4 linked regions of the Homo sapiens genome follow. The protein of the gene in region 4 binds, or shares a complex with, the protein of the main gene of each other region. Each region holds a gene or a part of one and is shown on either strand. Other genes may lie near its edges.

The links.
Region 1: DNAAF10 (region 4) and RUVBL2 share a complex: the UniProt entries of both Homo sapiens proteins name them as parts of the PAQosome complex.
Region 2: DNAAF10 (region 4) and ASDURF share a complex: the UniProt entries of both Homo sapiens proteins name them as parts of the PAQosome complex.
Region 3: DNAAF10 (region 4) and PFDN2 share a complex: the UniProt entries of both Homo sapiens proteins name them as parts of the PAQosome complex.

The regions. Positions count from the first base shown.
Region 1 is NC_000019.10:48,996,813-49,004,243, forward strand, and holds part of RUVBL2 (ruvB-like 2), read left to right. Parts: intron 1-2,506; coding exon 2,507-2,561; intron 2,562-6,466; coding exon 6,467-6,522; intron 6,523-7,394; exon of another isoform or gene 7,395-7,431. UniProt on the Homo sapiens protein: Possesses single-stranded DNA-stimulated ATPase and ATP-dependent DNA helicase (5' to 3') activity; hexamerization is thought to be critical for ATP hydrolysis and adjacent subunits in the ring-like structure contribute to the ATPase activity.
Region 2 is NC_000002.12:189,657,145-189,664,642, reverse strand, and holds the start of ASDURF (ASDURF protein), read right to left. Parts: upstream 3,185-7,498; 5' UTR 3,123-3,184; coding exon 3,033-3,122; intron 743-3,032; coding exon 689-742; intron 1-688.
Region 3 is NC_000001.11:161,108,012-161,115,442, forward strand, and holds part of PFDN2 (prefoldin subunit 2), read right to left. Parts: intron 2,602-7,431; exon of another isoform or gene 2,553-2,601; intron 1-2,552. UniProt on the Homo sapiens protein: Binds specifically to cytosolic chaperonin (c-CPN) and transfers target proteins to it. Binds to nascent polypeptide chain and promotes folding in an environment in which there are many competing pathways for nonnative proteins.
Region 4 is NC_000002.12:68,147,191-68,154,621, forward strand, and holds part of DNAAF10 (dynein axonemal assembly factor 10), read right to left. Parts: intron 378-7,431; coding exon 277-377; intron 1-276. UniProt on the Homo sapiens protein: Key assembly factor specifically required for the stability of axonemal dynein heavy chains in cytoplasm.

The sequences.
Region 1 (7,431 bases), on a different chromosome or scaffold from region 4:
CACCGTGCCTGACCTAATTTTTGTATTTTTAGTAGAGACAGGGTTTCACCATGTTGGCCAGGCTGGTCTCGAACCCCTGACCTCAAGTGATTTGCCTGCTTCAGCCTCCCAAAGTGCTGGTATTACAGGTGGGAGCCACTACGCCCAGCCTGTTGTTTTTTTTTTTTCTTAATAGCTTTATTGAGATAGAATTCACGTACTACATAATTCACCCATTTAAAGTATACAGCTCAGTGTTTTCTAGTATATTCACAGACTTGTGCAGCCATTTCCACAGTCAATTTTAGAACATTGTCGTCACCCCAAAAAGAAACCCCATGCCTCTTACCTGTCACCGCTAATCCTTCCATACCTCCCATCTTCAGTTCTAGGCAGCCACTAATCTTTCTCTGTATATGGATTTGCCTATTGTGGCTACTTCATATAGATGGAATCATACCATATGTGTCTTTCGTGTGTGGCTTCTTTCAGTCAGTATAATGTTTTCAAAGTTCATCCACGTTGTAGCATGTATCAGAACTCCATTCCTGGCCGGGCGCGGTGGCTCACGCCTATAACCCCAACGCTTTGGGGTGCCAAGGCAGGTGGATCACCTGAGGTCAGGAGTTCAAGACCAGCCTGGCCAACATGGTGAAACCCCATCTCTACTAAAAAATACAAAAAAATATTAGCCAGGTGTGGTGGCGGACACCTGTAATCCCAGCTACTCGGGAGGCTGAGGCAGAAGAATCACTTGAACCCAGGAAGCAGAGGTTGTAGTGAGCCAAGATTGCGCCATTGCACTCCAGCCTAGGTGACAGAGTGAGACTATGTCTCAAAAAAAAAAAAAAAAGAAAAGAAAAAAGAACTCCATTCCTTTTTATGACTGAATAATATTCCTTTGCACAAATAGACCCTGTTTTATTTTGCCATTCATCAGCTGATGGACATGTGGGTTGTTTCTATCTTTTGGCTGTTGTGAATAGTGCTGCCGTGAACACTCGTGTCCATGTTTTGTGTGGACCTCTGGGGGGGTCCTGAATTGTCCCGGGTGGTGTTTACTCACCTCCCTCCCCCATGTGAGAAGGGGTGGTAGCTGGCTCCTCTCTGTGGAGAACTGTCAACATGGGAAGCCTCGGTATATTCTTGTTGAATGAGCTCAGCACTTTAGAGTATCACTTAGCAAACCACAGACATTGAGTCCCGAGGTGAACAAGAGAGAACAGGCCGTGCCCTTCATGGGACTCATGTCCACTGGAGCAGAGAATATTGATCCATCCATCTCCCTCGGGAATGTGAGATCACACAGGGAGATCGGGCTCCCAGGGAGGCCTTTCATCTGTCTGAATGTCTAGAGGTCCTAGAACTAGCCTGGCAGGGCTGTTGGACAGAAAGGGCCTCCCCTAGGGGGCAGCACTTGATCTAATTCAGTGAGAGGGCAGGGAGAGCAGTCTGGACTCAGGGGCCAGCATGTGCAAGGCCTGGTGGTTGAGAACTGGGGCCGCCTGGTACAAGGGATGCTGGGAAATTAGCAGGGGCCAGAGCATGTCCAGCTCCATGCCTGCTCCTCATTGGTGTCTGTCCTTATGGAGCTCACAGTTATTAGAAATGGGGAGGACTTGTCTGGGCACGGTGGTTCACACCTGTAATCCCAGCACTTTGGGAGGCCTTGGTGGGCAGATCACTTGAGGTCAGGAGTTCGAGACCAGCCTGGCCAACCCCAGTAGAGATGGGCGAAACCCCATCTCTATTAAAAATACAAAAAAAATTAGCCAAGTGTGGTGGTGTGCGCCTGTAGTCCCAGCTACTCAGGAGGCTGAGGCGGGAGAATCGGTTAAACCCAGGAGGCGGAGGTTGCAATGAGCTGAGATCGGGCCACTGCACTCCAACCTGGGCGACAGAGCAGACTCCGTCTCAAAAAATAAGAAAAAAAAAAAAGAAATGGGGAGGACTTAGCCGGGCACAGTGGCTCACGCCCATAATCCCAGCACTCTGGGAGGCCAAGGCTGGTGTATCACTTGAGGCCAGGAGTTTGAGACCAGCCTGGCCAACATGGCAAAACCCCATCTCTACTAAAAATACAAAAATTAGCCGGGTGTGTTGATGCGCGCCTGTAATCCCAGCTAGTCAGGAGGCTGAGGCAGAGAATTTCTTGAACCCAGGAGGCGGAGGTTGCAGTGAGCCGAGATTGGGCCACTGCACTCCAGCCTGGGTGACAGAGCGAGACTTCATCTCAAAAAAAAAAAAAGAAACAGGGAGGATTTCATTCATTCACCAAATAACCAAATATGTGCTGGACCCTGAGGACCAAGCTGTCGATGAGACAGACAGTCCTTGTCTTCCTGGGGCTCAACCAACCAGCCATTAGGCAGTGACAGGCAAGAGGGGTGGGGGTGACTGGTGCCTGTCCCATCGCCTGCCTGTGAGGGGAAGGAGTGGAAAGGACCATCTCATGGGAGGGACAGAGGAGGGGTTGGTGAAAGCTGGGACCACACTAGTCCTCTGACACATCTTCTTGCACCCCCAGACAGCCACAACCAAAGTCCCGGAGATCCGTGATGTAACAAGGATTGAGCGAATCGGTGAGTGAGTTGGGTCAGGAATAGGACCTAAGCCCTGCCTGCCATGTGCCCTGACAGAGCAAACCTATTGAGGACCCCTAAGATGGAGAGGGAGGTGGCCTGCACACCAACTGTGCCCCCACTACCATTCCCCCACTCGCCCTATCTAATGGGGGAGGAGGATCCTCAGTTCCAGAGTTGGGTCAGATGATGCACTGGGGACCAGGCTGCTATCCTGGCTATCCTGGTGGGGTTCCCGGGTATGTTTGCCTGGAAGTCATAGATATTTACTGGGTGCTTTACTGGGTTTGGCCTCGTATACCCAGTACACACTGTGGGGTGAGTTCCCTGAGGGCAGGGACGAGGTCGTGTCATTCCTAGCTGTGTCCCTAGCACAGGACCTAACAGAGCAGATGATCAAGAGATAACCATTGAATGCACGAGTTTGCGTCCTGTGGAGCCCTCGCAGTAGCCGCATGAGGTGCATATTGTAACTGTTAGCTGAGGGAACTGATTTTCAGGACAGCTAAATCACTGGCCCCGGCTCACACAGAGCAGGAAGTTGAGACGCAGTGAGGCCAGCAGGGTGCGCTCTCACAAAGAGCTTTACCGGCAGGGAAGTGACCGCATTCATTCATGCAGCAGGCTCACTGATTCAGGGCATCCGAGAAAGGCAGTAAGGGCTTCTGGCTGTGAAGATGGGTTTTAGAAGCCCAGTGCTGGATTCCTGGAGCTTAGCTCTGCCACTTTCCCACCATGTGGCCAGGGACTAGTTCCTCTCTGTGCCTCAGTTTCCTTATCTGCAAGACGAAGCTAAGATAGTTTACCTCATCAGTTAATGTAAGATTCAGTAAGGTAGTTCATATAAAGCATTTTGGGTCTGTGTGCCAACACTGTTTCATCTATTAAAAGTGCTGGGGCACTGGGTGCAGTGGCTCATGCCTGTAATTCCAGCACTTTGGAAGGCCAAGGTGGGCGGATCACCTGAGGTCAGGAATTTGAGACCAGCCTGGCCAACATGGTGAAACCTCGTCTCTACTAAAAATACAAAAATTTGCTGGGCGTGGTGGCGCGTGCCTGTAATCCCAGCTACTCGGGAGGCTGAGGCAGGAAAATTGCTTGAACGAGGAGGTGGAGGTTGCAGTGAGCCAAGATCATGCCATTGCACTCCAGCCTGGGTGACAAGAGTGAAACTCTGTCTCTCAATAAATAAATAAATAAAAGTGCCGAGACTGGGTGCTGTAGCTCACGCCTGTAATCCCAGCACTTTGGGAGGCCGAGGCGGGTGGATCACCTGAAGTCAGGAGTTTGAGACCAGCTTGGCCAACATGGTGAAACCCTGTCTCTACTAAAAATACAAAAATTAGCCAGGCATGGTGGTGCATGCCTATAGTCCCAGCTACTAGGGAGGATGGCTTGAACCTGGGAGGCAGAGGTTGCAGTGAGCCAATATCGTGCCACTGCACTCCAGCTTGGGTGACAGAGTGACTCCATCTCAAAAACAAACAAAAAGTGCCAAGTATGGCCGGGCATGATGGGTCACGCCTGTAATCCTAGCACTTTGAGAGGTGGAGTCAGGAGGATTGCTTGAATCAGGAGTTCAAGACCAGCCTGAGTCACATAGTGTGATCCTGTCTCTAAAAAAAAAATAAAAAAATTAGCCGGCAGTGGTGGTCCATGCCTGAGTCCCAGCTACTTGGGAGAACTGCTTGAACCAAGGAGGTTCAGGATGTGGTGAGATGTGACTGCACCATGCACTCCAGCCTGGGTGACAGAGTGAGACGCTCTCTCAAAAAATAAAAATAAAAACATTTTTTTTTTTTTTTGGAGACGGAGTCTCGCTCTGTCGCCCAGGCTGGAGTGCAGTGGCGCAATCTCGGCTCACTGCAAGCTCTGCCTCCCGGGTTCACGCCATTCTCCTGCCTCAGCCTCCCGAGTAGCTGGGACTACAGGCGCCCGCCACCATGCCCGGCTAATTTTTTTGCGTTTTTAGTAGAGATGGAGTTTCCCCGTGTTAGCCAGGATGGTCTCGATCTCCTGACCTCGTGATCCGCCCGCCTCGGCCTCCCAAAGTGCTGGAATTACAGGCATGAGCCACCGCGCCTGGCCAAAAAACAATAAAAAATTAAAAAAAAAAAAAAAGGATGAAGAGCCAAGCACCGCTTGTGAGCTGAGGACCCAGTAGAGACTAGCTGCACCCAGGAGCCTCCCTTGGGGTGCTCACAGTCAAGCACTGGGGTCAGCAAATCTTTCCTTATTTTATTTTATTTTTTTTTTTGAGACGGAGTCTCATTCTGTCCCCCAGGCTGGAGTGCAGTGGCGCAATCTTGGCTCACTGCAAGCTCCACCTCCCGGGTTCACACCATTCTCCTGTCAGCCTTCCGAGTAGCTGGGACTACAGGCGCCTGACACCACGGCCGTCTAATTTTTTATATTTTTAGTAGAGACGTGGTTTCACTGTGTTAGCCAGGATGGTGTCTATCTCCTGACCTCGTGATCCGCCTGCCTCGGCCTCCCAAAATGCTGGGATTACAGGCGTGAGCCACCACGCCTGGACCCTAGCAAATCTTTCTTAAAGGGTCAGATGGTAAATCCTTCCTCTGTTGAAACTACTCAACTCTCCTCTTGCAGTGCGAAGGCAGCCACAGACAGTATATAAATGGCAGTGTTCCAATACAAAGATTTTTTGGTTGGTTTTTTGTTGTTTTTTTTTTGAGATGGAGTCTCACTGTGTTGCCCAGGCTGGAGTGCAGTGGGGCGATCTCAGTTCACTGCAACCTCCACCTCCCTGGTTTAAGTGACTCTCATGCCTCAGCCTCCCGAGTATCTGAGACTACAGGTGCATGCCACCACGCCAGGCTAATTTTTGTATTTTTTAGTAGAGACGGGGTTTCACCATGTTGGCCAGGCTAGTCTCGAACTCCTGACCTCAGGTGATCTGCTTGCCTCTGCCTCCCGAAGTGCTGGGATTATAAGCGTGAGCCACCGTACCCAGCTCCAATAAAATTTTATTTGCAAAAACAGGTGGCTGGCCTCCAGGCTGAGGTTTGCTCAACCCTCATCTAATGTAAAGCATGGGAATCCCATCTTCCCCTCTCGCTGGCTGTGTGGCTGGGGCATGGGACCTAACCTCTCTGAGCTCCCTCCCCATTCATATCAATAGGTTCTGGGACTGTTGCCATTTTGATACTCAGAAGTGCTTTCAGGGTGATAGCAGCCAGGGCTCTTGTTTCATTTTATTTTGTTTTACTGAGACAGGTCTTGCTCTGTCATCCAGGCTAGAATGCAGTGGCACAATCTTGGCTCACTGCAACCTCCGCCTCCCAGGTTCAAGCAATTCTCCTGCCTCAGCCTCCTGAGAAGCTGGGATTACAGTCATCTGCCACCATGCCCAGCTAATTTTTGTATTTTTAGTAGAGACAGGGTTTCACCATGTTGGCCAGGCTGGTCTCGAACTCCTGACCTCCAGTGATCCGCCCGCCTCGGCCTCCCAAAGTGCTGGGATTATAGGCAGGAGCCACTGCGCCCGGCCCCAGCCAGGGCTCTTTTTTTGCAGGATCATATGGAATAAACTGAGAACATGTGGGTGCTGTGTAAACCATAAACATGAAGTAATTGTGATCATTAGCCCTTGTGGTTAGATCTTAGTACAATTATGTGCTTAATCAGGCCTCAGTGACTTTTGTTTAACTAGGATGCATCCTCAGAGCAGCTCCAGTTCATTGAGCATTTACCACATTCAGCCATCTTCCTAGGGAGGTGCCAATTTGGGATATCCTTTCCATGTGCCCCTTCATTCCCCCAACCCCTGCTCCCTACTCCCACCCACCCCTTTGACAAAGAAGGAAACCAGGGCTCAGAGGGGTCAGGCCACATGTGCAGCAAGCTGGCTAGTAACTGAGTCTTTGTTCTTTCCCTTCATGTAGGTGCCCACTCCCACATCCGGGGACTGGGGCTGGACGATGCCTTGGAGCCTCGGCAGGTAGAGCAGAGGAGGCTGGGGTGTGAGGGCCTCTCCATGAAGGTCTTGGGTAGTGGGTACCCAGGGTCCTGGGGAGTGTGGGGACTATGTTACGGTCTTCTGGACCTTTGGCTACATACCCATAAACTTCAACCACATGTGGGTTTTCTTGGTACTAAAGAATTGATTAGGCTAGGTGTGGTGGCTCATGCCTGTAATCTCAGCACTTTGGGAGGCCAAGGTGGGTGGATCACCTGAAGTCAGAGTCAAGACCAGCCTGACCAACATGGTGAAACCCTGTCTCTACTAAAAATACAAAAATTAGCCGGGCATGGTGGTGCATGCCTGTAATTCCAGCTACTCAAGAGCCTAAGGCAGGAGAATTGCTTGAACCTGGGAGGTGGAGGTTGCAATGAGCCGAGATTGTGCCACTGCCCTCCAGCCTGGGTGACATCTCGGAAAAAAAAAAAAAGAATTGGGAGTGGGTAGCAATTGCTTTGCCACCTTAAAAAAAAGTTAGACTGGGTGCAATGGCTCACACTTGTAATCCCAATACTTTGGGAGGCTGAGATGGGAAGATTGCTTGAGCCTAAGAGCTTGAGGCCAGCCTGGGTAACATAGTGACACCTCCTTTCTACAAAAAATTTTAAAAATTAGCTGGACATGGTGGTGCACATTTGTGGTCCCAGCTACTCAAGAGGCTGAGGTGGAAGGATCTCTTGATCCCTAGAGGTCAAGGCTACAGTGAGCCATGATTGTACCACTGTACTTCAGCCTGGGTGACAGAGCGAGATCTTGTCTCAAAAAAAAAAAAAAAAAAAAAAAAAGCAGGGAAAGCTTTTTTGGCTTTTCCTAGAAGTCCCAGCTAGTAATGTCTGCTTCCATCTCACTAGCTTCCTGATGTGGTAGAAATGCCATGGTAGCCCCACA
Region 2 (7,498 bases), about 120 Mb from region 4:
TGAGTAGCTGGGATTACAGGCACACGCCTGGCTAATTTTTGTATGTGCCTCAACTTCTAATATTCCATAAGTGACAATATCAGAAATATCTAACCAGCCAGTTATTACATAATCTTTACAAAGCTTTTAAGAGCTCAAACTCATTTCTTCCTGAATGTTAAAATGCAATTTGACACTATAACCATACACAAAGCAGTAGCTTACTTGTTTGTAACATATTAATGGAAATGGCATTAAATAACCATGTTACACATTTAGGAAAATCTATGTAAAAATTTTTTGGAGGGAGGGGAAGCAATGTATCCTTTTTTGTTCAATAATTATCCACATTCATTTAAAAGAAAAGTTTCTTCTCATCTCAATATAAAGTTCGTTTATATCAAAAGAAAACATCAAATTCAGGTATAAAACATCATTAGTGATTATAGCTCCAAGATACCAAAATACAACTAGTATCATTTGTTGCAAAGGCAATGTGAATGGCATATGATAGAAAAAAGACATCTTCAGCTATGAGATCTATCCATTTAAAAAAAGAATCTAGACACTTGCAATTTTAAAAGATGCTGAAATACTATACATTTTATTAAAGTATGATTAAATCTTATATATACTTCTTATAACTTTAATATATAGTTAACATAAATAAACCTCCCACATATTATTCAGAATTCCTATAATAACTCACCCTATTCTTCTTAAGGTTAGAAAGTTCATCCACCACAATTTTTTGTTCTTTAATCTATTGAAATAAAGAAAAACTCCTTAAGTCAGATGTTTTCAAAGTATGCTCAATGAAAATCCCTTAAGGGGTTGTTTTAAAATTAGAGATGGGATAAGGGGCTATGATGTACTGGTTTTCCAAACGGGCAGTTTGTGAATATACAGATCATTTTCAACAGGAGTCTCTGTGTGGGGGTACAGTTCAGGAAAAGCTGGAGGAGAAAAAACAGTGATTAGACTTGCAAAATGTTAGGTAACCCATTAAGACCAGACAGGGATTTTCGTGTTCATAACCAGCAATCATGCCAAGGACTACAGTTACTAAACAAGGTTTATACCTTTTGTTAAAAATATATGATATACACCAGGCCGGGTGCGGTGGCTCATGCCTGTAATCCCAGCACTTCGGGAGGCCAAGGCGGGCGGATCACCTGAAGTCGGGAGTTCGAGACCAGCCTGACCAACATGCAGACACCCCATCTCTACTAAAAATACAAAATTAGCCAAGCGTAGTGGCACATGCCTGTAATCCCAGCTATTCGGGAGGCTGAGGCAGGAGAACTGCTTGAACCCGGGAGGCGGAGGCTGCAGTGAGCCAAGATTGCACCACTGCACTCTAGCCTGGGCAACAAGAGTGAAACTCCGTCTCAAAAAAATAAATAAATAAATAATTTAAAAAATATATATATATGATATACACCAAAAGGAATTAAGTTGTGATTTAGATTGAAAATTAAGTTGTGATTTAGATTTAAAAAAAAGCAAATTGAATGAGGGGTGGGTTACTTTTTTCAATATTTTCATGATTTTATGTACTAAGTGCTGCAGTCAAACATTCAAATCAAGCAATGCCCTATTTGGGGACAGTAAGACCTATCATGTTCCATCTTGGTATTTTTCCCTCTTTTTATCTCAATGACTAGCATAGAGCTGGCACTGTTGAACTGGGCTTTTTTTTTTTTTTTTTTTTTGAAACAGGGTCTTGCTCTGTTACCCAGGCTGGAGTGCAGTGGTGCGATCACGGCTCACTGCAGCTTTGATCTTCCCGGGCTCAGGCGATTCTCACACCTTAGCCTCCGAGTAGCTGGGACTACAGGCCTGGGCCACCATGCTGGCCTGGGCTTCATTTATTTGTAGGGGAGGGCTCAACTAAGTGAAAACTAAGTTTCTTTTTAACTCTATTTATTTTGTGAACATGACTGATTACATAGTATCACAAGAGCCTCTAAAAGCAGCTTTTATCATATTTGTGCTACCTCACACACACCTCAGGGATCTGTAACCACCAGTATGCGTAAGTGGCTTGCTATGGTGGTAATCAGAATGGGCTGTGTGTCTTTTGAAAATTCACCCCCAATCCCCATGAATGTGCACCTTTCTGTCTCCCCCGTTGGCAGAGCTGTAGTAATGAGGTTGAATTCCAAGGCCAAATTTGTAAACATTCTTTGAGACTTAACATTTATACAGGGCTTTCCCATTTTAGGAATGACAGGTGTACATTTCACTTTACTTCAAAGAAGGTAACTGATACAGAAAGATTAAAGAGACTTGCCCAAGATGTCATTGTAAGTTTGGGACAGAACCAAAGTAGAATCTAGGACATGTAATACCTGAAGGGCTATAACCCTCGCCACCCCCATTTATCTTTAAAGGTTGTTTGTTTATGGCAGTTAAGGCTTATATTATATTGGCTTCCTCTCTCCCCCAGTTTGGTATGAGTGACAACCCAATGCGTGTTTTAGGACCATTGCTCTGGTTAACGGAGAAGCAGCAGCTAACAGGTGGATGAGGAGAGACCGCTTAGGAAGGCCTTGCCGGGGGCAGGGGTCCCGATAGCAGATGACGGTGGCTTATTTGGGGTGGTAAGAGTGTTCACGGTGATAAAGGGACATATTTGAAATGAGCTTCAAAGGTAGAACTGATAGGCTTCCATGATGGGGGTCAAGGATGGACCCCGGGTTGCTGGCATGGTTAACTGGATGGAGAATATCTTTGATGGAACAGATTTGGGGTGGGCGGTATTTCCAAAAGTTTAAAAAGACTAGGGAGGAAAACACCCAACCAAAACTCCGCCCCACTGTCACCTGGGTCCAGTCTCGGGACAAATTTCAAGATCTCCCTTTTCGCAACTGTTTTCAGAAAATAAAAGGACTAACTGTGGCTGTCAAGTGCTATGAATAAAAAGAGCAAAGTAGCAGGGCAAAGCCGAGGCCCAGGCAGGCCCCACGCTGCCCGCTGCGGACCACCTTCAGGGTCCAGTGGCGCCCGGTCCCGAGTCCAGGAGCCTTTTCGTCGCGTCTCACACTCACCTTGCTGCTTAGATCCTCCTTGTGTGGGGTCGAATTGTCGGTGGGGATCAGCACAGAGCTGTCCTCTGGTCGCGTCCCTCGGCTGGGCATTTCCACCGAGCGCAAGACACGCGGGATGGCTCAGCCCTGAAGGAGCCTACGGCATTAGCCACAGCGCATGCGCGCTTCCAGCCGCGCTCACCCTTTCTTTTCCCGCGAGTCTTACCAATAGCGTCTGCGCGCTCACTTGAACGCATGCGCAGGCCGGGTCTGGCCTGGGGAGGAGTTTCGCGCCTGCGCATGGCTGCTTAGGGAGCGAGTAAACAGTCTGGTTGCAAAATCTGAGGTTCCTGTACTGGCCTCTTGTGGTTGAGATGCAGAAACGCTCAGGTGGTTTCTTCATGACCTCTTATCTAGTATACTACGAGTTCTGTGCGCCCTCCAGTGGTAAATATGAAGAATAGTCGTGCAATAGAAACAGCGCTTAATATGATATTTATTATCTAGGGAAAGATGAAGCTAAGGAACAGATTTAAGAGATACCGTGTTGGCAAAAGAACTGTACAGACTTGGTAAAGTTTTGGTTAACTCGTGGTTAGGGTTGCCGGATAAAATACAGTATGAACTTCAGATGAATTAATAGTTTTTTAGTGCATCTATGTCCCGTGCAATATTTGCAATATCTCATTTCTGTGGAAAAAATGACTAAAACTTGGAAATAGGCAAAAGAGATTTATTTACTGGATGCTCTTTCAGTGCTGCTCTGGACTTGACTTTATTATATTGACTGGGCTGTTTTACAATTCTGTAGGGGCAAAGGTTAACTTTGGTAGAGATTTTGGTTTGGTAGAGATGCAAATAATTTTTTGTTGTACCAGATACCAACACAGGTTATGATTTATTGTTCTGCAACACATTAGTCAGTTTTGTATCTAACCCTGCATTCTGTCCTAACATTTCTTTATTAACATATGCCTAGCTTCTCTAATATTCTGTATTGGTTTTAAAGTCATCGGTTCCCTCACTAACCAATGAGTTGAATAAAAGTTTGACATGTATATATTTTATGTTCACATTAGAGACATGATTTTAGGTTTTTGATAATTATACTATATTATTGGAAATCTTAAGTTTCCACAGAGATGCCCAACTGGATTTATGTGATGAATCAAACTATCTGGCGAAAGAAATGTATACATCATGGGTTGTTTAAGGCCAGGCATGTTTTTTATTTGCTCTTACAGAAAACCCAAGTGGTTATATATTTTTCCTTTATAATTGATTTTTAAAGATTGTGTTTTCATTTCTGATTTGTACATTCCTGATAAGTTATTCAGGTATAACTTATACATTACTGATACATTGATAGCAGCAATGATTGGGAGTTTGGTTTTGTGGTCTAACCATTTGGTGGTATCTGTTGGATGATGGACGTCTAGTCTCATTGGTAGAGAGGTAGATAGGTGCAGTGGCTCAAACCTGTAATCGCAACCACTCGGGGCTGAGGTGGGAGGATTACTTGAGGCCAGGGGTTCAAATAAATAAATAAGAGAGGTGACAGAGAAGCGAGTTTGTAAGTCTTTTTGTTTATTGTTTGTGAGCTCAAATTAATTAATTACTTTTGTGTCCACTGAGAGGGAAGGAGGACAGCTATTTGAGATGTGGGCTAGTAAGGTTTTGTTTGTTTGTTTTAACATAAAGGCCGCTCAAGCAGAAGAACTGGTGAATTTTTGTGGTTTTGTGTTTACTTTTGACCTGAGATTGAAGTTGTAAGACAGAAGCAATAACCTCTTTATGTGTCTGTGTGTCTGTAACTTAGAACAGGCTTTATGTCTCCCTTTGTAAATATGAAATATTTCCCTACTTCTGGAGTGTATTAATAAATCCCACTATAGTATCTCTAATTAAAGGGCCTCTGTTCTGACTAGTTTATAGAGAAAAATAAGCACTGGTATAATCCCAATATTTTTAAAAGCCCAGAATTTCCAATACTTTAAATGTGCCAGATTTTTAAGGAAAAAAGTTCTTACAAAACTGCTAGCTTAGAAACATTTTAAGAATCCAAGTTTAGGAAAAAGAGAGCTCCAAAGTGAAGTATCACTTCACTTTGTTGTTGTTGTTATTTTGAGACACAGTCTTTCTCTGTTGCCCTGGCTGGAGTGCAGTGGTGCGATCTCTGCTCACTGCAACCTCTGCCTTCTGGATTCAAGCTATTCTCCTGCCTCAGCTTCCCAAGTACCTGGGATTACAAGTGTGTGCCACCATGCCCGGCTGATTTTTGTATTTTTAGTAGAGATGGGGTTTCAGTATGTTGGCCAGGCTGGTCTCAAAGTCCTGGCTTCCAGCTATCTGCCCGCCTCAGCCTTCCAAAATGCTGGGGTTATAGGTGTGCGCTGCCAGGACTGGCTTCCACTTTGTTTAGAGGTAATAGTGAGGCTTATCTGTAAAGCTGATGAGACTGAGCATCCTAGCCTATTGGTCTTCTTTGTACCCCACCTTCTATTATAGTGTCTGGCAGAGTGGGAGCTCTGGTTAAAGTTTGAATTGGTTCTGACTCACAATCATGTCCACATCGAGTAGCCGGAAACACCCAACACCGCTGATTGGTCTACAGCTGTTCACCCCGTTTTGGGAAGTGGGCTGTTGCTTACGGCTCTGCCAGGTTCTGATGTTTTTGTTTATTCACAAGGGCTGCCCAAGACAACATAGTACTAAACAAAATAGTACTAAACAAAGTGGTGATAATAATTTTAGTATGGTGCTAAACTGTCTTAAAAGTGCTTTCACACTTTGTCTTATTTAAAAAATATTTATCTATTTGCTTCTATTTCCTCCTTCAGCTGCTCTAACTTCTGCATTGCTTGAAGTCAGCTTTGGGGTTAGCTAGTACCATGTGTCATGCCTAACTGGCTCAGGACTGCCCATCTGCAGCCCACCATACAACTGGAAACTATGTCTTCTCTTCCAGTGATTCTCAACAGAGCTAGGGGTTTCCCTAGCTGATGCTTGAAAAAATGTTTGGAGGTACTGTTGGTTGTCACAGTGATTGGATGGTTCTGTTAACTCTGATGGGTAGGACAGACTGGAAGTCATTTGAAAGGAGACAGACTCAACTACAGACTCTTCTAAGAGGCGTAGACTAGCAGACCAAAGGGAAATCTCAGCAAGTAGACAGTGCTGGTAATTGCCGGTGGGGGGAGGGGGTTGGAGAGGGGGAAGTAAGGTAGGCTGTAGGACCAAGGGGGTGAAGTCAAAGGAGAGGTAATATCACAGTCTAAATAGGTGATTTATATCAATAATTCTGCCAGAAGGTGACAGGGCCTGAGATATTGGACTGATGTTTTCCACAAGGCTCTAGGATCTGGGAAAGGAACTACTGGATCCTTACCATAAACTCTTTGCAGGGAGAACGCAGGGAGAATGCTTTGTCGCCCTAGTAACAAAGCACATCAGGCTGGTCTTGGTCTCTCAAGGGAAATGGCAGAGTTTCCAAGTACTGGTCTAGAGATTAGTAAATCCTTTTTACTTGAGATAAGGCTGGTTCTCAAGCTTTGCTTCAAAGCTGTGGAATGCGGACATCAGGCCTCCCTGACGCTTGCAGCCAACTTCACTTTGGAGCTCTTGTGCAGGGCTGAAACAGGATGTGGTGAGTGTGGTAGGGTGCAAATTTGAAGATGCACTGACTCTCAGGTCCTGCAGTAAGTGCTCTTTAAATTTTCTGCCCAGGTGCCTCACATGCCTCATCTAAGCATATTCGTCTTCTTTCCAATCCACTGCTCTCCTGCCAGTTGGATTTGAAAATTTCATTGTTGGTAGTTCTGTTTTACAATCTAGAGGTCAGTGTGGTTTGTGAATGTCACCAATGAAAGATGTTTTATATGCTGCCCATGCCTGTTGTATCTTCACATAGTCTGACAGCTATAAAGAAGGTTAATCGAAATTATCTTGGCTTCTTCTAGAACTATTCCATATGAGTGCCACTGTCCACCTCTTTCCCAAAGATTCAAATATGGATGCAAGGCAAAGAAAATATTTGATTGGTTAAAGTGGACCAGTAGCCTTATTTGGATCATTCCATTGGAAAATCCCTAGTTAGAGGTTAGTTGTTGGTTTCTGATTGGTTAAGCTAAGTTCTGTTTACCTAGAATATAACCTTTTAGCTTTTGGTTTGTTTAGGTAGGCACTCAGCTCTAGAGCTGCTTCAGTGTAATGGCCTTCCGATTTATTATTTTAATACTTCCTTTCTATGTTTTGGAAGAGTTTTTGTAGAATTAATGTTATTTCTTCTATTAATATTATATAGAATTTTCCAGTGAATTTATCTGTGCCTAAAGTTTTCTTTGTTCAATGGTTTATAAAAACTATTATTTTTCTTTTTTCTTTTTTTTATACTTTAAGTTCTGGGGTATATGTGCAGAACGTGCAGTTTTGTTACATAGGTATACATGTGCCATGGTGGTTTGCTGCACCCATCAACCCATCACCTC
Region 3 (7,431 bases), on a different chromosome or scaffold from region 4:
GGCTGAGGCAAAAGAATCGCTTGAACCCAGGAGGCAGACGTTGCAGTGAGCTGAGATCACACCACTGCACTCCAACCTAGGCAACAGAGCGAGACTCTGTCTCAAAAAAAAAAACAAAAACAAAAACAAAAATAAAAATTAAAAAAAAAAAAAAAACAAGGCTGGGTGTGGTGGCTCACCCCTATAATCCCACCACTTTGGGAGGCCAAGGCCAGCAGATCATTTGAGGTCAGGAGTTCAAGACCAGCCTGGCTGACATGGTGCAACCCTGTCTCTACTAAAAATAATACCAAAAAATTAACTGGGTATGGTGGCACATGTCTGTAATCCCAGCTACTCAGAAGGCTGAGGCAGGAGAATCGCTTGAACCTGGGCGACAGAGGTTGCGGTGAGCCAAGATCGCACCATTACACTCCAGCCTGGGCACAAGACCGAAACTCCGTCTCAAAAAAAAAAAAAAGGAGAATCACTTGAACCCAGGACATAGAGGATGCAGTGAGCTGAGACTGCGCCACTGCACTCCAGCCTGGGCAATAGAGTGAGACTCCATCTCAAAAAAAAAAACAAAAAACAAAAAAAACCTCTGGACAAATAATGCACGATTTACAGCCACTTTTCTTGAATTTCTTGAATCGTATTCCAAAGTAAGATCAATGAGTCAAAAAGGCATTAGCATTATTATAGCTTCCACTGCATGTCGCTAGAAAGCTCTCCAAGATGACCAGATTAATTTATACTGCTACCAGCAATATCATGATTATATCTCTTCTCTTTCCCCAGAGCCCTAATGGTAACTTTTATTATTTTTGTTACTTTAATAATTTTTAGAGTTGGAATGTAACTCCAGAAACCTTGGAATCATCCTTGATTCACTATCCACATCAAATTAATTACATGTGTACTACTTATTATACCCTCCTGATTTCTATACTGCCTCCTGATTTGCCCCCTTTAATCTACTCCCCACACTGCAGCATAAGTGACCAAAAATATAAATCTAACCAATTATTCCTTTGCCTAAAACCTTCTCAATGCTCACAGGATAAAATCTGAACTCCTCAAAAAGTCATATAAAGACCGGGTTCCAGTTTACCTCTCCCAATCAGTTGTTCCCTCCACATCTTAACTCAGCACTCAGTGTCCTAAGTCACTGGTAGTTTCCCTTAACAGCTGTCTTCAGGCATCTGCATAGAATCTTCACCCTACGTTTGGTATACTTTCCCAAACCTCTCTCATTCAGTTTTTCTCTGCTTAAGTCTAGTTCTTTCTTCAGGTTTCAACTTAGATTCTTCTGGGAAGCAGAAGAATCTGGCCATCTTCCATTCCCATATGTTAACCCTTTATATGTGCTCATATAAAAATGCATATTAGTTACTTAAATAATTTGACAAAATCTTTTCTATTTATATTGTGTTATTTTCCACCATGCAGACTGCCTTCTATTCTTTATCTTCTTTTAAAATTGTAAATATGCAAATGCAACCTATTTTAAAATATCTATTTCTTTCATAGTCCTACTATAATCTGCCTTCCACAGTCTCAAGAGTAAAGGAACACCTACTATATGCCAGGCACTGTGCTAGACTATCTCATTTAATTCTAAAAAACAAAAAAGACGGTAAGACCTGTACCTTCAATTTGTAAATAAGGAGACCAAGGCTGGTGGAGTGTTGTGTGGTGGTCAAAATAACATAGTGTGGATCCAGGCACGGTGGCTCACGCCTGTAATCCCAACACTTTGGGAGGCAGAGGTGGGCTGATCACTTCAGGCCAGGAGTTCGAGACCAGTCTGGCTAACATGGTGAAACCCTGCAGATCACTTGAGGCCAGGAGTTCCAGATCAGCCTGGCCAACACGGTGAAACCCCATCCCTAATAAAAATACAAAAATTAGCTGGGCGTGGTGGGGGGAGGGTGCCTGTAATCCCAGTTACTCGGGAGGCTGAGGCAGGAGAATCGCTTGAACCTGGGAGGCGGAAGTTGCAGTGAACCCAGATTGTGCCATTACACTCCAGCCTGGGTGACAGAGCAAGACTGTGTCTCACAAACACAAAACAAAATAGTGTGGGATGGGCGCAGTAGCTCACTCCTGTAATCCTATTACCTTGGCAGGCTGAGGCAGGCAGACCACTTGAGCTCAGGAGTTCGAGACCAGCCTGGCCAACATGGTGAAACCCCATCTCTACTAAAAATACAAAAAATTAGTCGGGTATGGTGGCTTATGCCTGTAGTCCCAGCTACTCGGGAGGCTGAGGCAAAAGAATTGCTTGCACCTGGGAGGCGGGGGTTGCAATGAGCCAACACCACACCACTGCACTCCAGCCTGGGTGACAGAGCAAGGCTCCGTCTCCAAAAATAAAAAATAAAATAACCTAGTGAAGTGCAGAAATCATACCTGTACCCAGGTTTGTCTTAACTCTAAAAATCTCTGTTAATATATTATTCCTGGCTTATCAAATATTAATTTCTTATCAAAGCAAATTTATATTCCTGTTTTCTTTTTTGTTTACCATATAGTTTTAATAATTTTAGGAAAAAATCTATAATCATTACCTTTCTCTCCAAAATGTCCTAGGGTCTTCTTACATGACATTTACTCTTACTGGTTTCAATAGAAGAATAGAAGAGGTAGAGAGTTATGATTGGATGAACCTGGAAAAGCATGATCTGGGATACTGCTCCACTAATTACCTTCTTTTCAGTTCAGTGCCCCCTTTTCTGAAGAACATACTCAACTCTCTGTCAAAGAAAACTTCTTTGACCTTATTACTCCATCAAATAATAGTACTCATCCCTTCTCTTCATGAAATTTTTTTTTTTTTTTTGTAGAGACTTTTTTTTTTTTTTGAGATGGAGTCTCGCTCTGTCGCCCAGGCTGGAGTGCAGTGGCATGATATCGGCTCACTGCAACCTGCACCTCCCAGGTTCAAGCAATTCTCCTGCCTCAGCCTCCCGAGTAGGTGGGACTACAGGCGCCCGCCAATGCGCCCGGCTAACTTTTTGTATTTTTTAGTAGAGATGTGGTTTCACCATGTTAGCCAGGATGGTCTCAATCTCCTGACCTTGTGATCCGCCCGCCTCAGCCTCCCAAAGTGCTGGGATTACAGGTGTTAGCCACTGCGCCCAGCCCGAGATGGGGGTCTTACTATGTTGCCCAGGCTGGTTTCAAACTCGTGGCTTCAAGAGATCCTCCTGCCTCAGCCTCCCCAAGTACTGGGATCCAAGTAGCAACATAGTAAAGTGGAAAGAACCCAAACTTCTTATTCTGACCTGGGTTGAAATCCCAGTTTTGCCATTTACTTGCTATATGACTGAGTCACTTAACTTTCCTTGTTTCCTCATTTATAAAATGGACTTAATATAATATACCACAGGGCAGGGTTTCTCAACATTGTCACTACTGACATGTTAGGCCAAATCATTCTTTGCTAGGAGGGCTGTCTCAGGCATTATAGGATGTTTAACAAATCCCTGGACTATACCCACTAAAAGTCAGTAGCAACCCCTTTGATTTGTGACAACCAAAAATGTCTCCAGACACTGCCAGATGTCTCCTAGGAAAAGATAATGCCAGTTGAGAATCACTGCTACAGGGTAACAATGAGAACTAACTGAGATAATAGGTCAAGTGCCCGATACAATGTAGATCTTCGACTCCCCTTTGGTTTCCAGGTCCCTTCAGTTCTCCTTCCTATCTCAAGCCTCCTTCTTTCTCCTTTCTGAAAGTTCTTCCTCTTTCACTCCCACAATGGCCACAGGATCTAAGATTCTATTCATAGCACTTCTTCATTACCTACATTATTTTTGAAATTATTTTTTATTGATTCATAATCATATTTTCATGGTATTGTGATAATTTGATATATTCATATAATCAAATCAGGGTAACCTATACTATTTCAAGTGGCATTCTTAGCTACTTCTATAGTTCCAGCAATTGCCTTTATTCTACTTGCCTGCAAAACCAGGCCTTTTCAGAAATTCTAGTCCCACATTTACAAGTTAGAGGAAGGAGCTTTTTTGTGCCTGACAGAAATGGCTTAACGTCAGACCATGACAAGTTACTTCTTTTCTGAATGTTTCTTCACCAATAAAATACAGATTAATACCTGTCTCACAGAATGCATAAGTATTAATTACTTCTTTTCTGATGTTTCTTCACCAATAAAATACAGATAATACCTGCCTCACAGAATGTTGTAAGGATTAAGTAATTACATCAAGAACTTAGGACAATATCTATCATATAACAAGTTTTCAATAAATAGTAGCTGCTATTATTACAGATCATCTCCACCTAAATGTCCCATGGATATCTTAAACTCATGTTGTTCAAAGCTGAAGTGATCTTATCTCTTCTATTTCTGCTACTGACATCACTCTAGGCCTCCTGGTAGGAAACCTTAGTTTCATCTTTTGTTTTGTTTTTAAAGATGGGGTCTCCCTATGCTGCTCAGACTGGTGAAAAGTGGTTATTCACAGGCACAATTATAGCACACTATAGCTTCAAACTCCCAGACTCAAGTGATCCTCCTGTCTCAGCTTCCTGAGTAGCTGGGACTACAGGCACTTGCCACCATACCCAGGTTCATCTTTGAACATACCATAATCCCATGAACTGCCAAATGTATTGCACTTAGTTTAGCAATTTCTCTTAGGCTCACTGACATAACCCTAGTTCAGATGTTCATTACATTCTTATCTGAATTACTGCAATAGTCTTCTAAATGATCCTATTTTTAGACTCCCCAAACCTACCCTACACACTGCTAATTTAATCTTCCTAACACTTAGATGACATAGAAAAATGTTCAACATATACTATTAGGCTTAAAAAACAGATTACAAACCAGTACATACTGTAGTATAATCCTAATTTTATAAAATATGTAAAAAAAAAAAAAAGCTCCCCCTTCCATCCACACATATATACACAAAAAGACAAAGGAGGGGGGAAAAAATCTCTCAAAGGATATACTCCTAAATGGCAAGAAAAGTTATCTCTGGATAGTTGGATTATGGGCAATTTATTTCCTGGTTTGAACTTTTTCCTTTGTTTTCTGCAGTTCCGACAATAAATGTATTATTTTATATAAGAGTTAAACAATTAATAATATAACATATATCCTTCTGTGACTTCCTCACTGCTTATGTTAAAAAGTCATAAATTCTTTGGCATGCACTCAAAGACCTCTATGGCCTTATTCAACTACTCTCCTCTTATCATATTCCCTACTTTCTATTCCCACTGCTACCTGTTCAAATCCATCCACTCCTTCAGGGTTCTGCTCAAATACCTCTAACATAATCATGGCATAAGTGAAAAAAATACCTGATTCTTAAGTCCCTCATTTAAAAATCCTGCTCTTCCAGTTACTGACCTTGGGCAAGTTAACTAAAGCCTCTGAAATTAAAATGTCCTCACCTATAAATGGAGGACAACACAACCTACTTCAAATGGCAGTAATTGAATAACAGAAGGTAGGCCTGAGCGGTGGCTCAGCTCATGCCTGTAATCCTAGCACTTTGGGAAGCCAAGGCAGGTGGACTGCTTGAGCCCAAGAGTTCAAGACCAGCCTGGGCAACATGGCAAAACTCCATCTCTACAAGAAATACAAAAATTAGCTGGGCAGGGTGGCACACGCATGTAGTCCCAGTAACTTGGGAGGCTGAGGTAGAAGGATCACCTGAGCCTTGGGAGGTTGAGGCTGCAGTGAGCCGTGATCGCACCACTGCACTCCAGCCTGGGCAACAGAATGAGACCCTGTCTCAGTCAGTAACAGAAGGTAAAACAAGTGTCTAACACAATGTGTTATTTGCTTCCATCTTGTTTGTAAGGGACATATGTGGCTCAAATTTGCAGCAGTGATAAATCTTGTAATGTTTTACCCAGTGTTCTCTCCAGAATAAACAAAGGCAAGAGAATGTTAATCAAGGAACAGCCTCAAAACTCACTTATCACACTTCCTCAGTTTCCTGAGGGAAGTTTGAGGGGTTCTCTTTAGCTCCCCTAAAACAGTGGTTCCACTCTTGTTCTACTTCTTTTTTCACTTTCTGTACAAACTATGGAAAGTGATCATTTTTATCCATAACCACGGCTTTATCATCCATAAACTCAATTCTCAAATCTGTATCTCCAACTCAGATTTCTTACTGTATCTCAAGATTTAAAAATCAAAGTGTCTACTGAATGTTTAACCTGGGTGTCCCACAAGAAACCTAAACTCAAAATCCTAAAATAAACTTACATTTCCCCCAAAATTGTCTGTCTTCCTACATTCCTTATGGCACCATTATCCACCAAAGACAGAAACCTGAGAGACATCTTATATTCCTCTTTTACCCCCTTTTCTCCATATTCAAGTTCTGTAATCCACCTCAAACATTAAGTCCCACCTGCATCCCAAACATGCCAGGCAGTTTCACGCCTTAGTGTTTTGGAACACATTTATTCCCTCTACCTAGAAAATCTTCCACTTCCTTCTTTGCTTGACTAACTTCTCTCATCCTTTAGAATTGAGCTGAAGGATTTTTCTCCTCTAGAAAACAAAAGCTAACTAGCATTTACTAAACACACACTATATTCTAATCACTGTGCAAAACACTTCGCATGCATTGTCTTGCCTAATACTCTAAATTCAGTGATGAGGTAGGTATTGTTATGTTTCTACAGATGGGGGAGGCCAAGATGTAACTCATGGGAGGTCATATATAAATAGTAAATAGTAGAAATGAAATTCAAACTTAGGTCTGACCCTAGTGCATAAGAATGCTCTTAGCCACCCTACTATACCACAGCTTCCCTTATCCAGCCCCTACCCCCACAATCCTACAACCTCGTGATTAGTTAGGGGTCTCTCCTCTGCTGCCATAATGAAGGGATTGTGCAGCACACTATAAATCTTTATTGTTTGGTTTGTCTTTTCTCAAATGAGTCTGAGTAAAGCAATTTGAAGACAAAGTCTGTTTCATGTACAATAGTCTCTCATTATCCAGAGTTATCCAATGTCTGAAAATAAATGGAAAATTCCAGAAATAAACAATTCATACTTTTTGTGTGTTTGTTTTTTGAGACAAGAGTCTCGCTCTTTGCCCAGGCTGGAGTGCAATGGCGTAATCTTGGCTCACTGCAACCTCTGCCTCCCGGATTCAAGCGATTCTCCCTGCCTCAGCCTCTTGGGTAGCTAGGATTACAGGTGCCCGCCACCACACCTGGCTAATTTTTTTATTTTTAGTAGCGATGGGGTTTCGCCATGTTGGCCAAGCTGGTCTCGAACTCCTGACCTCAGATGATCCACCCACCTCGGTATCCCAAAGTGCTGGGATTACAGGCGTGAGCCACGGCACCTGGCCAACAATTCATAAGTTTTAAGTTTCACACTGTTGTGAATAGCGTGATGAAATCTCTAGCCATCCCGCTCAGGATGTGAAT
Region 4 (7,431 bases):
TACATGGCATTAAATGCTAGCACCAAACTGCGTGTGTGAAAATAAGCATTGATAATATTATCCAAAATATCTAAAGAAAAATAGGTTAGTATTTTTTAATGGATTTTGAATATGAAATCTAGAAATATATATTAGAGACAATTCTCATATTTTTATAGTTAAAATGGAACATAGAAAGATTTTAAAATTAAAATTCTCTCTTTCAGAGAAAGAGTAATGAAACTATCAAATAAATTGCCTATCTCATCTGTCTGAATACTGACTAAATCATCTTACCATATATGAAGGTTTCCACCAAAATCTCCAGTAGCTAAATATCTCTGCTGTAAAGATGTTGCACCAAATGTTCCACATTTAATAGGTTTGGCCTTTTCAATCTTCATAGAAGGGAGGAAGAGAGGATATATTATTTATGTAAGCAGATATTTATAATCTATTAATATCATATTTATGGCTCTATTATGGCATTTAAATAAGACAATATAAAAGGCAATTAAAACATCTTCTGATGAAAATAATCTTGCTTTTTCCTTTACTCATTTTTCTTTAAAATATGTAACTGTCAAAAAGAAAAAGTGTTAATTTGCCTTTCCTCTCCTCTCACTAATGAGACATTCAAATGCTGACAGCTCTACAATCTCTATTGCAAATATGAAAGTTTCAGCATTTCATGTGATATTCTTTAAGATCCTCAGCAGAAATGAGAACATAATGAAGATATTATCTTTCCAGATGGTTATGGGAACAAAAATGTTATGTGTCTCTTATAGTTTTCCCTGCAGAACCCTATAAACTAAAGATGTTTATGTCCCACTTTCTCTGGGGCCTTTTCAATGCAGAGAGATTTATAAACTTGTGTGTACCAAGGCGCTACTATTAGTATGGATCAGCCAATCTTTTGAGGTTTCTTTACTTTAAAAGGCTACTGCACCAAGTATTGTATATAGTCACATTAGTAAAACAATCACATACGAATATATTATTTAACGTATGGGGTTTATGGAAATCAGGTGAAGAAGACTATGTAGCCAAAAAGGTCCTTGGAAAGGATCTAACACAATACCCTCCTGTCATAAAAGGAGACCAAAGCATAGGGCTGTACAGATTTGCCGAACTCATACAACATTCAACATTTAATGGTTTCTACTACATGCAAGTCACTGAAGTAGGCAAAAGAGGATACAAAGATGAATGAGATTGGCCAGTCCCTCAAAAAGCTAACAACTCAAATATCAGTTCTTATCTGGTTCCTCCAAAATATACATATTCGTTATACTACTCCTATGCCTCCCTGGGTCTTCTATTCACCTTCTTTTACTTCCTGATGTTTCTGATTTCTCCATGGCCCCTCCCGCCGCCAACTCTACCTGCCCAGGTCACTGAAGTCCCTCCTACAGTCTAACTGCTTTTCCTGCTGCCTTGGCTCCCGAGATCTCCGGAATCTGGAATTAGATGAGGCCACTGATATCTGTCCCACATCACACTCTTGCCATATAACACTTCCCACTGACTGTCAGCCTCAATGGGGCAAAACTATTCCTCTTGGTCTCTAACAATTTTTACATTTTTAAATTCTTAATGTTTATAAAAGTAATACCTGCTCCCTATAAAAATTCAAACAAAACAAAAGGATGGAAGGAAAAAGTGAGTCCCTTTAACACTCTCCAGAAGTAATCCCCACCCTTCTAGGCCTTCTACGCATTTACAAACACACATGGTTTTGTTTCAATACAAGGCAGATCATGGTACACTGTCCTTTGATGTGTTTCACTTAACAATACATCTGGATAAACTTTATTCCTTTTGCAGTGTTCTCCAGTTTCCAGGACATCTCCCCTTGTAACTCTTCAGTTCTCTTCATCCCTCCCAGGTTGGCCTGTTTCAAATAATTTTAAAAATAATTTCCCTGCCACTTTCAATGTTTATCCAGGCATTTCTATATAGGGTATATTATCCATATAAGGTATACATAGCAATTTTCACGAATAAAATAGAAGTCACTTAACACAAACTATAACAACTTTTTTTCTCTGATTCAAAGGTTACCATTATATGGTATAGGGCTTTGGAAACTCCCAGACTGTTGAACTTTCCTATTGTTTGTGATCTAGATAAATTGGAGTTACTACGTGGCCAAGTCTAAAAGCACTCATACCTTCCTCAGAATTGTCTAGTAAACGAAATCAGCCACGTACAGTAACATGTTTGTAAAAGACCCTATTGATGAGAAGCATGGAACCACAGAATGTTTCTCTTTTTAATGCACAAGTGGACTGAGATGGCATCAGTTATTCACTGCCGCAGAAAATTAATATTCATTTATTCCCATTTTTTCCCAATTTTATGAAAAAGAGTATCTGAAAATGGGGCAACACAGAGGATCAAAATTTTGTCAACAAAGCACATGGTTTCTAACTGCAGGCAATTTATGTTTTCCTCACCATTCCCCTCTCCTCAAATAAAAGTACCTGAAATAATATATTAACAGTGGTAAAGCACTTAATCACTATTAGGGCACAATTTCTATGGTGAAATTAATTCTGAGTTCCAACCTATGCCAACTGGTGAGACGGCTATCCACTCTTTCCTCCCCTTGGTCTCACACTGAACCTGGGTCTTGCCAGCTCTAAGCCACTGATAATGGCTTCCATGTTCTGAGGCAGAGGGTGGAAGCAGACCCTCTGAGGTAAGAAGCTGGTGGTCCTCATGCACAGCAATGTGGTTCCAGGAGACAGGGGATTAGAAGCTGTGAAGAACTTGCATCATCTATTGACCCAATTCTCTGGGAACATTTTTCTCAGAGAAGCACTGGGAAGACTGGTCTCCCATTTTCTTCCCACCAACCAGCTAAAGCATTCTGCTTCCCAGAATTCCACCGCTGTCCCCTCAAACCTCTGATGAGGGTTTCTGTGATTCCTAGGCCATGGAAGAGGTAAAAACTAACCTACACTCTTTGGTTCCCTACAGTCTTCTAAAATTTTACTGCTGGATAAAAATAAAAAACTGGAAGCAAAAACTTTCCTCCCTGTTATTCTTTTACCCAACTTTCACTTTTAGACCCTTTAGACTAGAGAATCTCAAACTATACTCCTGGAACACACTGATCTTCTGTTACTAACATAATACATTAATCAGAAAATTCACCAAGAACAAAAGCTGATGCATGTGTTGTTTTCAGATTTTAAAGTTTTTTTAAAAATAATTTTCTTAGCTTGCCTGGTAGAAAATACTAGCAAATGAACACCAGTTAAAAAAACTTGGACTGTGTGCAGTGGCTCACGCCTATAATATCAGCACTTTGGGAGGCTGAGGCAGGCGGATCACCTGAGGTCAGGAGTTCAAGACCAGCCTGGCCAAAATGGTGAAACCCCCTCTCTACTAAAAATACAAAAATTAGCCAGGCGTGGTGGTGGATGCCTGTAATTCCAGCTACTGGGGAGGCTGAGGCAGGAGAACTGCTTGAACCCAGAGGGCGGAGGCTGCAGTGAGCCAAGATCACACCACCGCACTCCAGCCTGGGCGACAGAGAGAGACTCCGTCTCAAAAAATAAAATAAAATAAAAAAATAAAAATAAAAATAAAACCTTGGAAGTGAAGACTTAAAAACTGTGTGGTTACTTGTGATGTAAAAATCGGAATCTCTATCTATTTATCTATCTCTATATATAGTCAGATTTTTCTGCTGAAAATCTCTTCCCTGTGCAGAGATAGAACTGACTACTCCAATATTTTATGGTGTTCCAAAAACAGCACTGCAATGTGCAGATTCTTTGACACCTGCACATGTCTGAGAATTGCTACCTTCAAAGGAAAGAAACCAAACTGACAACCAGTCTACACAATAAGCTCTATACATTTTCACAGTTGTCATTGCATCCCTTCTAAAAGTATGTCTTTATTACAAATATAAAGGAAAGAAGTAAAATGTATCTACATTGAGAAGCACAGACTCACAAGAGTGGCATGAAGGCCTATGGTATACAAAATGCAAAAAGTCCTTTGGGATCTGGTCTTGTGTGTGTGACTTCATTTCCTGTTTCCTGCCTTCTCTACTAATTCCAGCCACACCAGACAGCTTGCTTTTTGTTCTTCATACTTGTCAAGGTCTCTTCCACTTGGGCCATTTGAATTTGCTGTTCCCACTGCTTGGACTACTTTTCCCCAGGTCACCATGCCTCTATCCTTCTCTTCATTCAGATTTCAGTTCAAATGCCACATTCCCAAAGAGGTCTTCCTTGTCCCTCCAATCTGAAAAACCCCTAAATTACTGTCACTCACCCTGTTTAATCATCCATTATACTTATCAACAAAATTATTTTATTCATGCAATTATGTCCCCCTTTCTAGAATGTGAGCACCATGAGAGCAGGGCCTTGCCTAATTTTTTTAACGCATAGCAGGCATTCAACATTTGTTGAATGAAGGTATAAATGACCATCCATGAATCTCTCAGCCCTAACACTAGGGACAGACAAACCAGGGCTGGAGTTCACTTTCTTTGCTCTCTCTTTTCTCCTACCATACTTTCATGTGCCAGGGTTCTGACAAACTGTTCAGTTTCTGGTGTCATTGACATGCAATCATGAAAATAGCAACCATCTATTGAACACCTACATTTCAGATACATTTTAGATATTCTTCCAGTCTAGACCATCCCTTTTCTAATATATACAACACTGCAAACTAAGTGTTCAGAACACCACTTTCAAGATGACGAAACAGGTTCAGAGGACTGAGTGACTTGCCTAAGGTCCCAAGAGCCAGATACAATCCAGACTTTTTCCTCTAAACTAGGCTGCCTCCAGGCTTATATGTAAATCAATTAAATAAACATTTTATTATTGGAGTCCTCATTCTGTAAACCTGAGCGTTATTGGAAGTATCAAAGAAATGTTCCGATCTTGATTGCTGAGGTAAATGGCACAACGGCATGAATTAAACCTACTTTCAGATCTCTGCCCTTTGGTTTTTACCTTCATTCATGTCTTTACAAGATATAAATATATGATATTATGCTTCCCTCATGTTCTTTGTCCTTTTCTTAAAGAAACACAAAGATATTTATGGTCATTAGTGGTCTGCTGTGCAAGAACCAAATTAAACTCAAACTGTATATCTTCAACGTATTAAACGTATTATGAACATATTAAACGTATTAAAACTTATCATTTGTGTGCACTGAGGACTGCACTTTGCTCAGAAGGGCCGAGCTCTGTTGGCAAACTGACTTACAAAAGTGGCCATGTTTCCTCTTTCCTCAGACATTCATGGAAATAATAATAATAGCTAAATTAAGAGGACACTAGTGAAGCTAATTTTTCATAGTTCACAAACGGGTTCCCTCTCTGCCCCATTAGATAGTTTATCTACAGAAAAGAAAAGATGAAAAGAAGTTGGTGGTAAATCAAAATTTTTCTTGCTGGAAAACTAGCTGGCAAAAAAAAAAGCAGCTCTATCTTGCAAAAATTGTTCAACAAAGAAAATCAATATATACTAACAATTTTTGCTATGTGATACTGAAAATGGCCATCAATGATGGTCATAATTGACCTAACTGTTCACTTTCTTGCTATAAGAAGTTAAAATGATTAAAGAAGCTCAAGATCAGTAATTCCTGTGTGAGCTATTTTTGTTCTGCATGTGGGTGGGTCTAGTACAGCTTGTCAGTATTTCCTCCTCCACATCCTGGCAATACTTAATTAACATTAAAAGATCTAGCCAACCAAATGCTAACAAGCAGTAAATTCGGTAGCACAGGGGCTAAAAAAGCAGAATTTTATTAGCTTATTGCTATTTTTTTTAATATAAACATCTACAACTGTGTTTCCATTTTTCAGGGCCATCCCTAGTCCATATGGTATCTTTGTGCCAATGAGAAAAAAGTTGCCTTTTATAGGCTGATGAAGTCTCACACATGTAAGGCTTGATGAAGGAAAAAGAGCTTTTAGCTCCCACTTGAGCACTCAGCCAGACACCTTTGTGTGGTGCAAAAAACTGCTCAACTGAACACGGAGGCCCTGCCCTCCATTCCCTATCTATCCTTTTAGAACTAAGATAAAGAAGACTTCAACAAAGACTGATATGCTGATATGCTTCCTTTACATCTTTTCTTCTTAGATGCACGGGCTTTGTGAGCTCCAAGTCAGTGATAAATTAAAAAAAAAAAAAAAAAAAAAAGAACGATGCATGAGTTTTGGAGCACATGACTTAAGGGTAGATCTACGATGATACATCAAGTCTGTTTCCTAATATTTTAATAAATGACCCATCTAGCTCAATGGTTCTCAGCTCTGAGACTCATTAAAATCACCTTGCGGAAGTTTAAAAATACTCTGATTTCTAAACCTTACTCCAGATGCAACAAAGTTGTACTACTGTGTCAGAATTTCTAGGGGTGGGACCAAGGCACAAATGTTTTAAAACACACACACACAAGCCACAAAATGCACTCAAATGATCCTGATGCACAGTAAGGAGTGGGAGTTACTGGACCAGTATTTAACCTATATTTAAAAATTTTTTTCCATTGCACCAGAACAGCCAAACACAATGAAGTTTTTTTTTTTTTTTTTTTTTTTTGGAGACAGAGTCTTCCTCTGTCTTCAGGCTGGAGTGCAATGGCGCGATCTCGGCTCACTGCAACTTCTGCCTCCCGGGTTCAAGTGATTCTCGTGCCTCAGCCTCCTGAGTAGCTGGGTTTACAGGCACGCACCTGACCACGCCCAGCTAATTTTTGTATTTTTTAGTAGAGATGGGGTTTCACCATGTTGGCCAGGATGGTCTTGCTCTCCTGACCTTGTGATCCCCCCGCCTCGGCCTCTCAAAGTGCAGGGATTACAGGTGTGAGCACCGCGCCCAGCCCAGTGTAAGTTCTTAAAGGTATTTTTGTATTAGTTTTACCCTCTTTTTGGACAGTAGGCTCTTTAGGAGAAAGGACTCAACTTTTAAATCTCTTCGGTCCTTGTTAAACACAGTACCTTGAAATAGTGTGTTCTCAGACAACTCATGGTAGAAAAAAAGAATATCCAAAGGATTCAGGTGAAAATATACTTCTTTTTTCTTTTTTTATTTTTTGAGACGGAGTCTTGCTCTGTCACCCACGCTGGAGTGCAGTGGCGCGATCTCGGCTCACTGCAAGCTCTGCCTCCCAGGTTGAAGCCATTCTCCTGCCTCAGCCTCCTGAGTAGCTGGGACTACAGGCGCCCGCCACCACGCCCGGCTGATTTTTTGTATTTTTAGTAGAGACGGGGTTTCACCGTGTTAGCCAGGATGATCTCGATCTCCTGACCTCATGATCCACCCGCCTCGGCCTCCCAAAGTGCTGGGATTACAGGCGTGAGCCACCACACCCGGCGTGAAAATACACTTAGTGGTTATTCCTGGCATTGAGATTATGGGTGATATTTTCTTCGTTTTCCTATTTTCTAAATG